Linked DNA regions of Homo sapiens: region 1 is linked to region 2. The links come from fine-mapping of genetic effects on gene expression. A gene starts in region 2. The other region holds a variant in brackets. All regions are shown on one strand. Distances are between the middles of the regions.

Region 1 (8,327 bases), 110 kb before region 2:
CAAAGACCATTTGCTTCCCTGGCCCCTCTGGGAGTGAAGTGACTGTACCAAATCCTTCCACGTCCTCCCGCACCACTCGCTTGGCCAGAGGAGCATCTGGCTTTTCCCTGGACGCACCCCACCCTCTCCTCATGATCTTGTCCTCTTCAAGGAGGACCAGGCCTCCCTGTCCTACACCCCACATCCCTGGGAAATCACTGTCGGGGCTGCCCCAGCCACTATTTCACCCTGGCTGAGCTCAGCTGCTACTTCTGGGCTCCAGGAGGACCCTGCACCCCTCACGATGCTCTTGTTCTCATCACAGTCGTCCCTTTGGGAACACGTGACCTCTGCCCCTCCTTCACATGCTGCCCACTGAGCTCAGCCACGGGGTCCTTGATTGCACGGACTTTGCACCCAGGGCCTGTGCAAGGCCTGGCGGGCAGCCGCCCACGAGGGGCGCTTGTTCCATGGATAAAACGCCCTCTATTCTGCCTCTCCTCGTGCCCCTTCCTTTGAGGGCTGCTCCAGGAAGGCTCAGGTGAGGCAGGTGGATTCTTCCCTTCCTTGGCTGTCTGGGGCCCCAGGGCCTGGGAGGCCTGGGCAGAGCTCCCACACCGGTCTTCACTCCAGGACCCCCTTGGAGGGTGTGTCCCGGGCTGACCTCCCTGCCCAGTGCCCTGAGTCCACTCCCAGGCTGCCAGCCGGTCCGCAGGACCAGCCCTTCTGGTGACCCAAGATGGTGTTTCCATGAGGATTTGCCTTTGCGGACCTTGGCGTACACCCGATTGGCAGTTCATTCGTTGTCCATGACATCCTTCAAATCCGCCTGTACTTCTTATTCCAGAGCCACCAGCCAGTTCTCCCGCCTGGGAATCCTGAGGGCTTCGTGTCTGCAGCATCCATTTTCCTGCCCTTTCAGAGTCTTCCAGACAAAGGAGCTACAGAGCTATAGTAAGACCTCTGTGGTCATATGGCAAACCATCTGCCCGTGGACCCCTGCTCATATGGCAAGCTGTCTGCCCACAGACCCCACAGAGACCTGGCACAGGAGCCAGGTGGAGGGCAGTCACCACCTCGGCCCTCTGTCGTAGCTTCCCAACTCTGGGTCCATCCCAGGGGCTCCCACAGCCTCCCGTCTCCTGCACCCTTTGCATAAAACATCTTTTGGATAAAACAACCTTTGCAGCCTCTTAGGAAGGATGAGGTCCGCCGTGCTGAGCCTCCAAGACCAGGTGACCTCAGCAAGGTGGCTGCGGACATGCTGCCTTTCCAGGAAGTGGCAGTCAGAGATGCCAGGGTGGCCCCATGACCCCAGGCCAGGATGTGCCCTGCCAAGGGAAGGCCATGGAAGGCGGCGTTTACCTCCACGTCCCCAGGGCTGCACTGGAGCTACTTAAGAGAAGCATTTTTAAATAAAAGTTCAGCCTGTTACAAAATTCCCTAATGTGAGATACAGGCTGGAATGAGGCAATTCCACAGAGAAATCATTGTGGGAATAATTCACATCTAATGTAGTTTCATGAAGGATGCTATTTCCAGAGTCTAACTTTTTCTCCCTTTTTCTCTCACTTTTTGATTTTATTGCTGTTTTTTTTTTTTTTTACATTAGGAGAAATTGAAAACCTGTTTAGGTTTCATAGCTTCACATTTCTGAAGCAAGTGACACAGCAGAGAGTTGGGATGCATCTGATTTGTGCCTCACAATGAGGCGTGCACGTCACTGGTTAATTATGTGGCGTTCCATAAAGGAGAGCTGTTGGGATAAAAGGATGAATTGCGAGCATTAACCTTCTTTTTCCCTTTTTAAGGGGACCACTTGTCAGTCACAACGGCAGTAAAGCCAGGTGTAATGAAATTGGATTTTGGGAGAGGCTGCCATTGAGTTGATGCCATGGGCCGCTTGGTCTGGGAGAGGCTGGATTCTCAGTGCAGCCCCAGAAAGAGCCGGGTGGCAGGGGTTGAGGGCATGACAGGTCCAGGGACAGGGGCCTTAGACCAGATCCAGCTGCAGAGCACGTGAGCCCTGACCCCATGGTCAAGACCCTGGACTTCAAGCAGAAAGGCCACTGGGCTTGTGGTCAGAGATGGTGTGAACCTCCATCAAGGATCCCTTCCTCTGCCTGTTCATAAAACCGAGAGGTGGGCTCTTCTCTCCAGCCAACCTGTTCTGCCTGGGGCCAGGCTGTGAAGGGGCTGAGGGACAAGTCCACTGCCATCGGGGCCTCTCCCTGAAGGGAGTCTTCTGCCCCAAGAAACATTCTTCCCTTACCCGCAGGCTCATTGGTTTATTTTAGCCTCTAGTGGAAGGACACTGGACAGATGTCCTTTGATTTGAGGACACACACCTTTGGATCTGAGCTGGCTCCGTGCCCCACTGGAGCCCACACAGTGACTGTGGCCACCGCTGCTGGGAAGCCAGGACCCACCATCACGGACAGTTTCTCCACTGTACATGGGAAATGGCTTTGACAGGTGCTTTCTGGCATTTGGGGTGGATGGACTCATCCTCATCCCCATTTTCAAGCTGTGCATATGGAGGCCATGTAGATGCGGGGGCAGGGTGGGGGGGCAGGTGCCAGTTTCCTGAGCCTGCTTGTGGTGGGGCCATCGGGCCAGCCCACTTGCTGGTTTGTGACCTGTCTCAGTCTGTTCCCGCTCCTCTATACTCTTAGACTAGACAATTTATAGAGATGAGAAATGCTTTTCTTACAGGTCTGGAGAATGGAAAGTCCAGGACCAAGGCATCAGCAGATCTGGTGCCTGATGAGAGCTGCCAAGACCCTAGCTAGGCCCAGGCCCAGTGCTAAGCCACCAGGCTTCCAAGATGGCGCCTCCTTGCTGTGTCCTCCCATGGCAGGAGGGAGCAAGGGCTAAGAGGGCCTAGCTGGTTCCCTTCGGGCCTTCCATGAGGTCGCTCATTCCATCCATGAGGGCTCTGCTCTCATCACTTCACATCTCCTAAAGGTTTCACCTCTTCATATCGTCCTATTGGGGCTTAGCTTCCTACTTTGGGGTTTTGTGGGGACTCACGTATTCATGCCCTAGTGTGACCTAATGTGACATCACGCCTCTCCCCTCCCAGCTGGGTTGCGGTGGAGACAGCCAGCTGTCCCCTTAAGATGCCCACCCCCCACTTGGAGGAGGTCTGAAGTGGAAAGTGGCTAGGGAGGCTGCCATCACATTTCCCAGGCTGCCCCCAGGGCTAGCGCTCGCCGGCGGGATGTGAGCAGAAGCAGCAGTTAGGAGAGTGCCTTCCCCACCTCCCGGCCCCTACTGGCCTCTGGATTCCAACCTCTCTGAAACTCGGTATGGCAGGGCCACAAACCAGAAGCAGATGTGTCCCTGAATCGTTTGCGGTGACCCACATTCATCCTCATGGGAGAGACGCACCATCTTCGAATGTGAACGGTTGACATGACGGGGGCGTTTTCCCATGAGGCTGAGAAGTCCTGTGCATGCATTCCCTTAAAATAGAGACGTGAGCACCTGTGATTGGGGCCAGCTTGGATGTTCTACCAGAGGCAGTTTGCTGTCTGGTCAAAGAGGTCTTAGGGTGCTTTTTTGTCATCAGCCTCATTAAACAGTGAGCTGATCTTAAGTGACGAGACCATGAAGGTCACCACTGTGACATACTGGAAGTCTTTTTTTTTTTGAGACGGAGTCTCACTCTGTCACCCATGCGAGAGTGCAGTGGGACGTACTGGAAGTCTTAAGTGAGGTCATCTACCACCCAGCTGTGCTCTGTAACCCAGAGAGCGCAGCTCGGAGGGCTGAAGACAGGTATACGCATATCCATGAACACTGTCACTACTCCTGAGAAGG[C/T]GTCACTGCTGTCATTGAAAAGCTTTGAGGGCTGTTGTCTATGGTTCTTGAATTTGTAAGTGGAATTCCTGGCAGCTGTGTGATAAATCAAGCACATCGGTGTCGGCGTGACCTTTGACTTCTGTCCCCACAATCTGTGAACCAGAATAAACCTCTTCACTCAAACTTCCACTTAGGATGGCACCTGGTTAATATGAATCATGAAGCAATCAAAACTGAGGTGTACGTTTCCACAGACGGCAGACTTAATTATTTAAGTGTTTCTTTTTTCTAAATAAACTGTAAAAAATGAACATATTTTATTTTAAAAATGGAAACAATTTAGAAGCTTATAGAATCAAGCTCCTCCCAACCCTATTCTTCTCATATTGGAAACTTCTATTGATAATCAGATAATCAGAATATTTCCAGTGTATTCCATGCAAGCCTATGGATTCCTGAAAATGTGGAGAGGATGTTATTGACTTGAATTCCGCTACGTTACTGTTTTACTTAGCAGTGTACCTTAAAGACCAAAATGTAGTGAACTTGAAAAAATCTGTTTTTTATTTTTATTTTTTTTTGGAGATGGAGTCTTGCTCTGTCACCCAGGCTGGAGTGCAGTGGCATGATCTTGTCTTACTGCAACCTCCGCCTCCCAGGTTCAAGGGATTCTCCTGCCTCAGTCTCCCTGTATCTGGGATTACAGGCACTCGCCACCACGCCTGGCTCATTTTTGTATTTTTAGTGGTAATGGGGTTTCACCATGTTGCGCAGACTGGTCTCGGACTCCTGACCTCAGGTGATCCGCCCTCCTCGGCCTCCCAAAGTGTTGGGATTACAGGCATGAACCACCGCGCCCGGCGAAAAAGTTCCGGCCTTACCAGCTTTTGTGGTACCCCACGGTGCAGACATGCGCATACCTACTTGCTTTGGGGGCATCAGTCTGTTTCTAACGTGGGCTGTTACAATCAGTTGAGCGTGTACGTTCTCTGTGCTCCTTCATGTGGTCGGGAGGCTCACGTGCAGCTGGTGATCATGCAGTTTGGTACAACGCTTCTGGAAAGAAATGGATTAATATAAATCGAGACTCTTAATTAGTTTGTCTGTTTAACCCAGCAGTTCTGTCCATGGGACCTTTCCTAAGGAGCAGTCATCGGAAACGCATTACAGGATCTGGAGAGAACCAGCCCCCGTGACCCCCACGTGGCCCTGGGACTTGTTAGAGCTTTCTAGCATCTTTCATTGGCTCTTTCCTCGTCTCTGAGGAAGGTCGATGGATGCGCCTTCAGCACAGCGTGGTGGTGGACGTGGGGTAAAAGAGCAGCCATGTTTAGCAAAGCCGGCAGCTCTGAAAAACTCACTCACAGCTGAGCATTTAGAAGGTCATTACAGTCCCGCAGAGAAGGACGCATGAGGACATCCCACAGAATGCAGTGTAAAATTCGGAGATTAAATATAAAAAAGAAGTCCAAATGCCCAACAGCAGCAGCAGAGCAAATTGCAGTCCATGTTTTGTAGAAATATTTGGCAGCCATTGATTTATTTTATTTTTATATATTTTTTTATTTGCAGCCATTTAAATCATGCTTATTAAGAGCTTCTAAGATTGTGGCGTTTGTTAAAATAGTAAGTAAAGCAACAATTCTACATTGGCAGTGACGGGTCCATAATGAATGAATGAAACTGAAGTACTGGGACCCTCCTTTTTGGCGCCTTACGAGACCCCGGGGAACTCTTGGCGCTGTGCTCCCACGATCACGTGTCTGTGTAAAATCTGCGGATGTTCGATGGCCTCAGGAAGGCTGCTGTCTGTTCCCAGCGTGACCCTCTCTGTCGCTGTCCCTGCCTTGTGGGTGGTGGTGGAGTGTTTGTAGGTGTGGCAGGACCCAGCTGGGGGAAGGGAGGTGCTTCATTTAGTTTGAGTTTAGTGGGATGTGTTTTGGGGGCTCACTTTCCAGGGAGGCAAAGCCAGCTATGCGGGTGGTGGGCCTGACTCTCAGGAATTCTTTCACCTCTTGTGATGGTTCCAATGTGTCCCCTCCACGTTTCATGTGTTGAAACTTAGTTGCCAGTGTGATGGTGTCAAGAGGCACGGCCTTTAACAGGTCATGAGACCACAAAAGCTGCCCTCCACGTCCAAGATGGCGCCGTGATTCTGTATCCGCCCGAGGGGAGGGAGGCTGTGTCCTCACAGCACTGGCAGGAGGGGGAAAGGCAAGTGGGAGATAACCGTGCGAGAAGCCTCTTTTATAAGGGCCTCCATCCCCTTTGCCAGGGAGGATCCCTTGTGATCTAAGCGACTCCTAAAGGCCCCACCTCTTAATGTGTTCACATGACCATTAAGTTTTAACTTCTAAATTTTAGAGGGGACATATTCAATTATATTATTCTACTCTGACCCTCAAAACTTGAGTCCTTCCCACACGCAAAATACATTCATTCCATTTCAGTAATTCCAAACGTTTTAACTTGTTCTAGCATCAACTCAAAAGCGCAGAGTCTTTTAAACATCATATGAGTGAGACCCAAAGTGTGATTTATTCCGAGGAAAATTTCCCTCCAGCTGTGAGCCTGCGAAATCAAGCAAGTCATCCGATTCCAAAATACAATGGTGGAACACACATAGGATAAACATCCTGATTCCAAAAAGGAGACATAGGCAAGAAGGAAAGAGTAGCTGATCCAAAGTAATTTCAATACCCAACAATGCAAATGGCATTACATCTCGAGGTTTGAGAATCACCTTCTTTGACTCCATGTTCCAGACACAGGAGCAGGGGTTGGGCCCTCCACACTCCTTGGGGTGGAGTGGCCAGGAACTTGCATCAGACAACAGAGCTGCCAGTGCCTTGGCCTTGGACTTCTGTCCTCTGTTCTTCATAAAATACCCAGCCTCAGCTCGTTTGTCTAGCAGCACAAACGAGACTAAGGCAGAAACTGGTGCTGAGAAGTGGGCTATTGCCATAAAATATACCCAACATGTGAATGCAGCTTTAGAACCAGGAATGGGGCAGAGGCTGGAATCGTTTCAGAGTGAATGCTGGGAAAAGCCTGCATTGCCATGAACAGAGCATTAAGGACGATCCTGGTGAGAGCTCAGAGGAGGGGAGAGCTGTCGGGAAAAGTAGTGATATAGATGGGAAGGGCCATTCAGAGGAGGCTTCAGATGGAAAGGAGGAATGTTGACCTAAAGGGAGAAGCTGAGACACAGCAGGTAATTTTACAGCCTTTGCTAGAGCCAGAGTGAGGGCAGCCGCCGGGACACACTTCTAGGTTGCATAGGGGAGTGCTCCGAGTAGGTGTTTAAAGGCGAAAGAGAACGAGGGGTGGCTGCTACAAAGCTGTCGGGTGGGATTTCCCACTGTTTACAGGAGGGGCACTGTTTAGTGATTGGCTGTGCACTGCTGAACACAGGGTGTGATGATGGTGCCTGGTATGTGGCCCTTTATGACTGCTTGTTGTCAGTTGAGACCCCACAGAGCAGGTGGCTTCAAGAAGTAATTATTTAGCTCAAGGGGGTGTGACGTGACTGCTGTCATAGTTTTAATGCCCATTTAACAGGCCTGTTACTTTAAAGGGGCTTGCATTCCTCAGATAAAAAGTTTATTTTCTTTCTCAGCAACAAGGTATTGGAAACTGAGGGAAGGGTACCCTTGTTATAATGTGGCCAAGAACTGGGTGAGCTGTGTCTGTGTCCTGGGACTTGGTGAAGGCAGAGCTTTGCGAGCAGTGAACTAGGACATTTGTCAGGAATCTCTAAGCAGCAAGGGGTTCAGGATGCTTCTTTTGACCTTATAGTAAAATGTGAAAAGAGGGAAACAAGTTAAAAATGGAATTTACAATCAAAAGAGAAGCAGAGCTTAAAGTTGGAACATCCTCTGTCTGGCCAGGTACAGAATGAGAAGGGGGTTGGGGAGAGAGCACCAAGGGTAGCCAAGGCACCCTTTGATCAAAGGGTGAGTACAGATAGGCCACGGCCAGATGCTGTTCACCAGACAACGGGAGCAGGAGCCTGCAGGCATTTCAGAGAGCCTGGGGCTGCCAAGTCCTTCACAGGCCCAGAGAGCCAGGCCCTTGAGGGTGGAAGGGCTCAGGGAGGGGCCCAGGGTGCCCATGAGATCTTGGGGCTCACTGCGCAGGGCTGCCTCAAGTTTCCATTCCCCTCATTCTGACCCAGCACTCATCAGCCGCCCCAGCTGTGGCTCAAGTGGGCCAGGTGAGAGGCTGGACCTGCTGCCCCAGAAGGTACCAGCTGTGACCTTGGTGTTGTCCACGTGGCGCTGCCTCTGCAGGTGCACGGGGTGCATGAGCTGAGCAGGCACAAGCTTCTTCCACCCCAGATGCAAAAGAAGCCTCAGAGAGGCTCGGGGCCCCATCTGCCAGGGGTGGTGTCTTCACAGACAGCCCTTGCTAGAGTAATGCCTAGTGGATACATGAGAGCAGGGCTCCCCACAAAGACCCGTAGAGTCACCAGCATGCAGCATCAGCCTGGGAGGGCCACAGGCCTAAGACTGCCACCTGGGAGAGCAGCTGTGGGGCCG
Region 2 (8,327 bases):
TTAAATATAAGATAACTAAGAACTTACATTGCTATTTGCCTTGAAGGCATAAGAAGCCAATTATGGCTTGGCGTGGTGGCTCACACCTGTAATCCCAGCACTTTGGAAGGCTGAGGCGGGTGGATCACCTGAGGTCAGGAGTTCGCAACCAGGCTGGCCAACATGGTGAAACCCTGTCTCTACTAAAAGTACAAAAAAAATTAGCTGGGCGTGGCGGCACACACCTATAGTCCCAGCTACTTGGGAGGCTGAGGCAGGAGAATTGCTTGAACCCAGGAGGCAGAGGTTGCAGTAAGCCAAGGTGATGCCATTGCACTCCAGCCTGGGCAATAGAGCAAGACTCTGCCTCAAAAAAAAAGAAAGAAAAGAAAAAAGAAGCCAATCATATTCTTACTTACATATACATGCACATATTCTCAATTTAGGTCATATTTGTGGATGTTTCATTTCGCTGCTGTATCTTCAGGGGACCAGTGGCATTTTGTATTCATAATCCTGTAAAGGTTTGCCACTGCTGACATGGAATCTGAAACAATAAGACAAAGTGGGAAGAAAGCCACTCCGGAGAAGGGGCTGAGCAGTGCTGGGGTCGAGGCTTTCACCTGCCCACCCTTGCTTTCTCATCCCCACTCATTTGGCATGAGTGTAGAAGAAGCTGCCTGCTTGGTCCTCGGTCACATTCTAGGATCTGCCTGGCCGTTGGTTGGATTGGTGCCCAGTTGCTATTTATTGGCCTGATAGGATCCTATGTGGACTTTCTCTTGATATTTTTATTATGTTTGCGTAAACACTTATCTTCAGTTTATTTTTAACGTTCTTGAGTTTGGGGTAGCATTAGGAATGAAAGAACTTTGTCCCTCTTTGACTCCGTAGTCTATAAATGACCATTTTTCGCTGGTTAGAACAATGATCTATCTTACCCTGACAGAGAAGAGGTTCTGTGGCCTGTCACAAAGAGATTGCATCTCGTTATGCGGGCTGCCAGGTTCCAGGAGAAGTGCCCTGGGGCCTTGCCCAGAATTGCCTGCCAGCTGATGTGCATGTCCCTCCCATTGAGGAGCAGGGTTTTCCTGTTTGGGGCAGCATTTGAGATGCATTTCTGGTCAGATGGGAGTGCCCAGTGCCCGAGGGTCAGGCCTCCTGGCCAGTTGTTTCCACACTGATGACCCAGGCAGCCTGGCATCCTGTGACCCCCTCAGAAGAGACCACTTATGCACCCTGAGTCCTCCCCAAGGCACCAGACGCCCAGGTTCACAAGTGGGGATCAGAGATGCAGAATTTACTTTCTTTCCACAAGTTAAGGTCATTTTTGGGAGACTCGAATGTCAATTACGTCACCCTAGGAAGTGACTAGCACGAACTAAGTGCTCTGCTGTGTTCTGGTGCCACTGGCCGTGATGAGGCAGTGGGAGGCCGCGCGTTACAGATGCTGCTCAGAGGGCACAGTGAGGACCACTGCAGCCTACAGCACGGGTTCCAAACCGCCACTTGGTTCCAGACGCCTGCAGAGAGGGCAGCCAAGTCATTCTCCGGGTTTCTCCAGCAGGGCTGCTTCACGTTTGACCCAGAAATGGCGCCTGCATGTAGAGAAATGCCGGGCCGTGTGGGCACCCAGGTTTAATTATTCAGACTGCTTGGATCCTTGAGAGCTATGCTGAAAGGCTGTTGCTCATAACTCCAGCAGCTGTAAACAAGAACAGCTTTTGCCATAGATTCTTGCTGCTTTCTCATGTTGTGCTTGGAATACAAGATTTCATTTCTGATATGCAATTTCATGATGTTTTTCTTCTGTATCTGTGTTTTAAGATATTTGAACAGTTTGTCAAGACAAGAATAAAAGAAGAATACAAGGAAAAGAAAAGTAAATTGCTGCTAGCCAAAGAAGAATTCAAGAAACTTCTAGAGGAATCTAAAGTGTCTCCCAGGTATGGAGAGAGAAATATACCGGATGATTTCTGGGGCTGGGAACTTACCAATGACAAGAGGACTCTTCAGGTTTGTTTTTGTTAAATCGTGTAACCCAGCCTTCCACAGACACGAAAGTGTGAGCTTTGAAGACCTGCCAGTGAGACCAGCCTGGCTCCCCTCTATCATGCTGCCTGTCATGAGCCTCCAAATGTCCCTCTCATCAGTCCTGGGAAAGTGGGCTATTTGCTAACCAAATGCATCACAACCATTTTATTCCTACCCTGCATGCATTTCAAACGTCAGCAGCCCTGACTGACCCAAATAACCAATCAATACGTGAGCACTCATGAGATGAGGTCTAGTTTCTGATCTAATGATCAAGAAGCAAAAATGCAAAGCTGACTACAAACAACAGCACCATAACCCCTACCACACCCCTTGGTTCCAGATGTCTTAACAGTTGGTCCCAGAGTAAAATGAAGATTTGATACACCGGACAAGTGAACTGAGTTAACTAGGTTGCCAAAACTTACTAAAATAATAAATGAGGCATTATTTCCATGAAATAAGACACACTTACAAGAAAATAGATGTTAGAAATTGGAAGAATACATAAGCTTAACTCTTTCTTAAAAATTAGCTTTAATTGACTGATCTTTAAAAAGTAATGAACATGGGCCGGGCGCGGTGGCTCACGCCTATAATCCCAGCACTTTGGGAGACCAAGGCAGGTGGATCACGAGGTCAGGAGATCGAGACCATCCTGGCTAACACGGTGAAACCCTGTCTCTACTAAAAATACAAAAAATTAGCCGGGCGTGGTGGTGGGTGCCTGTAGTCCCAGCTGCTTGGGAGACTGAGGCAGGAGAATGGCGTAAACCTGGGAGGCGGAGCTTGCAGTGAGCCTTGATTGCACCACTGCACTCCAACCTGGGCGACAGAGTGAGTCTCCGTCTCAAAGAATAAAGAAATAAATAAAAAGTAATGAACATGTACTACTTTTAGAACTATAAAACTGTAAGTTTCGTAAGCATAAAAATGGTTAACAATGTATTTTTATTTTAGACTGGAAGATGCAGCATCAGTTTTTTGTTTGTTTCTTTTTTTTTTTTTTTTTTTTTTGAGACAGACCCTCGCTGTGTCACCCAGGCTGTGGTGCAATGGCACGATCTTGGTTCACTGTAACCTTTGCCTCCGGGGTTCAAGCAATTCTCCCTGCTTCAACCTCTCAAGTAGCTGGGATAACAGGCACCCACTACCATGCACAGCTAATTTTTGTATTTTTAGTAGAGATGGGGTTTCACCATGTTGACCGGGCTGGTCTTGAACTCCTGACCTCAGGTGATCCACCCACCTCGACCTCCCAAAGTACTTGGATTACAGGCGTGAGACACCATGCCCAGCCAGAATCAGTTTTTTCTTTCTTTTTTTTTTTTTTTGAGATGGAGTCGCTCTGTTGCCCAGGCTGGAGTGCAATGATGCAATCTCGGCTCACTGCAAGCTCCGCCTCCTGGGTACATGCCAAGTAGCTGGGACTACAGGTGCCCACCACCACACCCGGCTAATTTTTGTATTTTTAGTAGAGAAGTAGAGACGGGGTTTCACCATGTTAGCCAGGATGGTCTGGATCTCCTGATCTTGTGATCCACCCGCCTTGGCCTCCCAAAGTGCTGGGATTACAGGCATGAGCCACCGCGCCTGGCCTGCATCGGTTTTTAAATGGACATTAATTGATGCTTTCTATGAAGGCATAGGCCCCCTTTGTTTGACCTGTGATTTGGTTGATCAAGAATTAGGTGACCTAAGTTAGTGCTAGTTACACAATCCTCATAAAACTTCTCTAGCTATTCTAAGGACAGGTACTTTCTGAATAGGGAAAAAATAGCATGAATTATCTTCATCACAAGTGCTAATGTAGACAAGGAAATGTGTGTCCTGTTGCCTGCAACTTGTGATTTTCCATTGTTAAAGCAGTCATGAGAATGCTGGGTTCTAGCCATGGCTTAGCTGTGTCCACCCACCAGGTGGCCTTGGGACAGAGGCGGAGGAGGCAAGGGCTCTGGAAAGGTGCTGGAGCCCCTTCTCTGCCTTGGTTCACAGCCTGGCCCTGGCCCATCTTCTCCTGGCCATGGGGTAAGTATTGGACCTTCCTGTGCTCCCGAGCCCTCCTCCAAATGGGAGGATGACCACACACACCTCAGAAAGTGACGAGGAGGATGGCGTGAGGAGTTGCAGGGAGGGACCCCGACGGTGCCTGGCAGGCAGGAGGAGCTCCGAAAGTGGTAGCTGTCATTACTGCTATTGAGACCATCATTACTGTTAAAGACATCTGGCCAGCATTCTCTATTGATAAACTAGCAGCAATAAGCCACATACTCCCCTTCCCATGAATACATCATGAAGACAACGGAAAAAATATTCGGAATGCATTGAGCCATTTAAAAAAGATGACATACACACATACACGCACACAGAAGGAAAACGAGTGGTAGAAATTAGAAGGGAGTTAAACGGACTCTTTTTAAAATGAGAGTTAATTGCCTGCTATTTTTTAAAATAAATTTTATTGTATATATTTAAACTATACAACATAATGTTATAGGGCACATAGAGATAAGATGCTTACTATAATGTAGCAAATTATTTTAAAATTTACACTGGGATATATTGCTTTGATAATTATAAAGCTATTTTTTTCATTTTAAAAGTAGCTAAGTTTTCAACATTTCAAAAACTTTTTCCAGATCTTCTGTATACTTTTCTGTAGGCATCCTAGTGAAACATGTACAATTCAAATGACCACATGCTGGAGAGCCAGGCGCGTCCCCATGCAGGCGACGTGGGCCTCTTAGAAGCAGCCTCCTGAGGCTGTGTAGCCTCCTGCAGCCATACAGTCCCGTCCTGGTCGCCCGTCTCAGCCTCGGTCCTGAGCAGCCTGTGGGAATGGTGGCGACGGGACAGTCCAGAACACTCCTGGACAGCCCCTAGCCCCAGCCCTGCCCGCCTCTCGGGAGAGCAGCTACCGGGGACTGGGTCCTAGCCAGGTGGGGTTGGCCGCCCGGTGGGGTTGACGCCCGGTGGGGTTGGCCGTCCGGTGGGGTTGGCCGCCCGGTGGGGTTGACACCCGGTGGGGTTGGCCGCCCGGTGGGGTTAGCCGCCCAGTGTTCCTTCCTGAGAGCTGCAGCAGCCGCCTCCTTCATGGCAGGCTGGCCCGAGTCCCACTTAGCAGAGGGAGAGCAGAGATCCAGGGCCTGTGAATCAGCTGACCTTCGTGAGTTCACACCACAGCTCATCAGCATCAGCAGAAAGCCGGTTGCTGCCCCTTGGCATGGCTAAGGGGCCACGGAAGCGGGAGGCTCCCTTTCTTTTCAGGGACTCTTCTTTTCAGAGAGGCCCAGAATAGGGCCTGTCTAGCAGCTGCCCCTGTCCAGCCCCTAACTGAGAATGTGTAGATGCCTGTCTAGCCAGGGGAGCGTGGAACAAGCCCAGGCAAGTCTGACCGTTTGACTCATCCCCCGCAGGTCGGGGTGGAGTGTGGCTTAGCCAAGGTACACCAAGGTGGTTACATCAGTAAAGGAAGGAAGGGGGAAGGAGGGAGAGAAGGAAGAAAGGAACCGGGAGAAAAGGAGGGAGGGAGAGAAGGAAGGAGGAAGGGAAGGCAGGGGAGAGGGCAGGAAGGAGGGAGGGAGGAAGAGGGAAGCCAGAGAGAAGCGCTTTTCTTGCGAGAGATGTGTAAACAAGCACCCCCACAGACGGAGAGCAGGAAAACGGCAGCGCCTTGGGGAAGGAATGAGACGAATTGTTCAATGACAGAAATGAGCATGAGTCTGCTAATTATTTGTCTTGTCTTCTAACAGCCATGTCGGCATAATCTTGTTGTTTGTATATTTCAGAAGCTATTAAGTTATAATAATTTAACACAATAATTCCGTGTCTGCAAGGAAGTGTAAAATTCTCTGTAAGGAGAAGTGGGAGGGAATAAGAAGAATCCCCCGGACAAAGAATGTCCACATTTTCCGTGCACCCCAGAGCACACTGCCCAGGCCAGGCCCTGCCCGACTGTCGCTGGACAAGCGAGTGCATCTGCATAGGCCAGCGGCTCCAGGCCTTGGTCCCTCTACCTCTGTCCCTGTCCCTGGCTTCAAGTTCAAGGCTAAGAGAACAGGAAGTTGCGGGGCCCGGTGCCTGCGAAGGTCAGTTGGTCACAGCAGAGGCGCATCCTGTTTTGCCCTCTAAGCTGCCGTAGCCTTGAGAACAGCCTTGCTGCTCTAGGCTGGGTCGCTCGCATTTTCTTACGGGGCACCACCTGGCCTGGCAGCTCTGATTCGCTCCATCAGTGTTTGGGGCTCACTACTTGCCAGGCACTGGGCTGGACATTCAGGGCATTTATTGGAGAACGAAGCAGATAATGTCTCCCTCATTCGAATGTGGGAGTCCAGTTCCGCAAGTGAGGTTTAACAAGATCACCACTGTGAAGAGGGCTGTGATGGAGTCACAGTTCTCTGAGCCTCTAGATAGGGCGAGTTTCCCAAAGAAGACCCCCTGGCCTGGTTTCTCATGACGAGCAGCTCTAACTGGGGGAAGAAACAAGGGAAGGGTGTACCAGGCAGAGGGAACAGTGTAAGAAAGACCGTGGCAGGCAGAGCCTGGTGGCAGCAAGGGAGGGGCGGAGGAGACCTGGCCAGCAAAGCTGTGATCGGGGCGGCTGGGGGAGTGACAGCTGCATGAGACGGCTGAGGAGGCTGGTGGGGGCCGCTCATTTCCGGAGACCACTCAGAGGAGAGACAAGGGGGTCCTGCAAGTGAGGGTGGGTCAGGGCCCTGCAGGACCCGGGTGAGGAGCAGGCACGGCTGGTCAGAGCCGCTCACCCACCGGGTGCCCTGCCACCCACGGCCAGGCCTGGTGGAAGGGCTGGATGCTTGCTCAGGCGGTGCCGCTGCAGGATCTCTGGGGAGGCCAGAGTTGCTCTCTGGAAGGTGTCTCAGGAAACTCTTTCTTTTTCAGGACCACGTTTAAGGAGTTTGCAGAGAAATACGGCCGGGATCAGAGGTTCCGACTTGTTCAAAAAAGAAAGGACCAGGAGCATTTTTTCAACCAATTCATACTTATTCTTAAGAAACGGGACAAGGAAAACAGACTAAGGCTGCGGAAAATGAGATGAGTTTGTGAAAAAATGCAATAAGCCCGGGGGTTGACCCTGGGCGTGCCGGGGGCGAGGGGGTCACGGTGGAGACGGACACGGGCGTGGGGCGGCCGAGACCTGCACGGCCCAGCGGGCACCGGCACTGCGGGGTCTTCGTTCTCAGAGGATTACTGTTTCATATTGAAGCTCTCTCTTTTGTACATTCAGAGTTTGATGCATTTCTAATCACCGTGATACGTCGATCCCTTAATTGTTTTAATTATGCAAATTACTTGTAATATACACAAATTATCAATCCACTGCAGGACTGTGGGGAAGCAGGAACGGGAGCCTCTGTAACAATCTCAAGGCATTTGTGTCATCACCTAAGACGATTGGCGAAAACTTTTCTGAAAACCTTTGTGAATTACTTCGTTTCTCCAGGATTCCCGCAGTGTTGAGGAATTCCTTACTCTGTCCCTAGGTCTCAGTCTCGTTTCTGAGTAGCAGCAATAGGGTTTTCATCATTCATCATAGTGACAACTGTGAGCATTCCACACCTGGACCGTGGATCACTTACAGGTTTCCAAGGGTGGCCGCGCGTTCCTCCCAGAGGGGCGTCCCGGCCTGGAGCAGGGAGCCGTGTTGGTTGCCACCGGTCCTACTTCAAAAGAATTATTTTGTACAAAATCATCATATTAATATTTGAGTTATTTTTATTGTATGCCCGGAGTTTGCATGAGATTTTTTCTCATCACCTTTGTATAAAAAATTTTTAATTTTTTTTAATCAATAAATATTTTAAACCAGTGTGTGTATGTGTGACTAAGACATTCCCCATGATCTTAAGCAGCAACATTGTGTTTCAACTAAAGATACCCAGTTTTGAAAGATTCAGGGAGAAAAAAAATCCCGATGATTGCAATAAGGGCCATGAAAATGCCACTCACACAGAATCTCACTTTTCAACATACTTAGTAGTCCTGGGTGGAACCACGTTTGGCAAAACCTTCACTAATTAATTGCATTCCTTAAACTATTAAACATCCATTCATTTATTTCAAGATTTATGGAGTTCTCTGTTCAGATACAATGTCTTTGTCCCCTAGTAAACAGTGACACAGCCTCCTCACCTACCTTCTTCTTAATTAGTTCCCATGAGAACACTTTTTTCCACACTTATTAGGATGTAATTGGGCAAGGTGGGATCCACTCTCCACTGAGCTCAGCCCTGGTCCCGACACTGTCGCTGTTAACACCTCACCTTCCGTGTTGGGTGGCCCCTGGGGGTTCCAGG

What was found.
Region 1: its variant is fine-mapped to the expression of TCERG1L-AS1 in thyroid (GTEx, PIP 0.98).

Annotation. Positions count from the first base shown.
Region 1 is chr10:131,198,622-131,206,948 of GRCh38, reverse strand. The region is part of intron 4 of TCERG1L (transcription elongation regulator 1 like); the gene reads left to right. LOC105378563 (a long non-coding RNA gene) reads left to right here. Exons shown (of 5, transcript XR_946484.1): 3 at 1-520; 4 at 827-2,430; 5 at 2,695-4,396. Among named protein-coding and RNA genes, the nearest start is that of TCERG1L-AS1, 110 kb to the right of the region's middle. The variant C/T (reference allele first, on the strand shown) is at 3,805.
Region 2 is chr10:131,091,904-131,100,230 of GRCh38, reverse strand. It overlaps TCERG1L-AS1 (TCERG1L antisense RNA 1), which reads right to left and starts at 5,013. Exons shown (of 2, transcript NR_120623.1): 1 at 4,932-5,013; 2 at 4,454-4,843. It overlaps TCERG1L (transcription elongation regulator 1 like), which reads left to right. Exons shown (of 12, transcript NM_174937.4): 11 at 1,807-1,925; 12 at 6,913-7,840. The coding sequence ends at 7,069. RefSeq lists an enhancer at 1,244-1,745.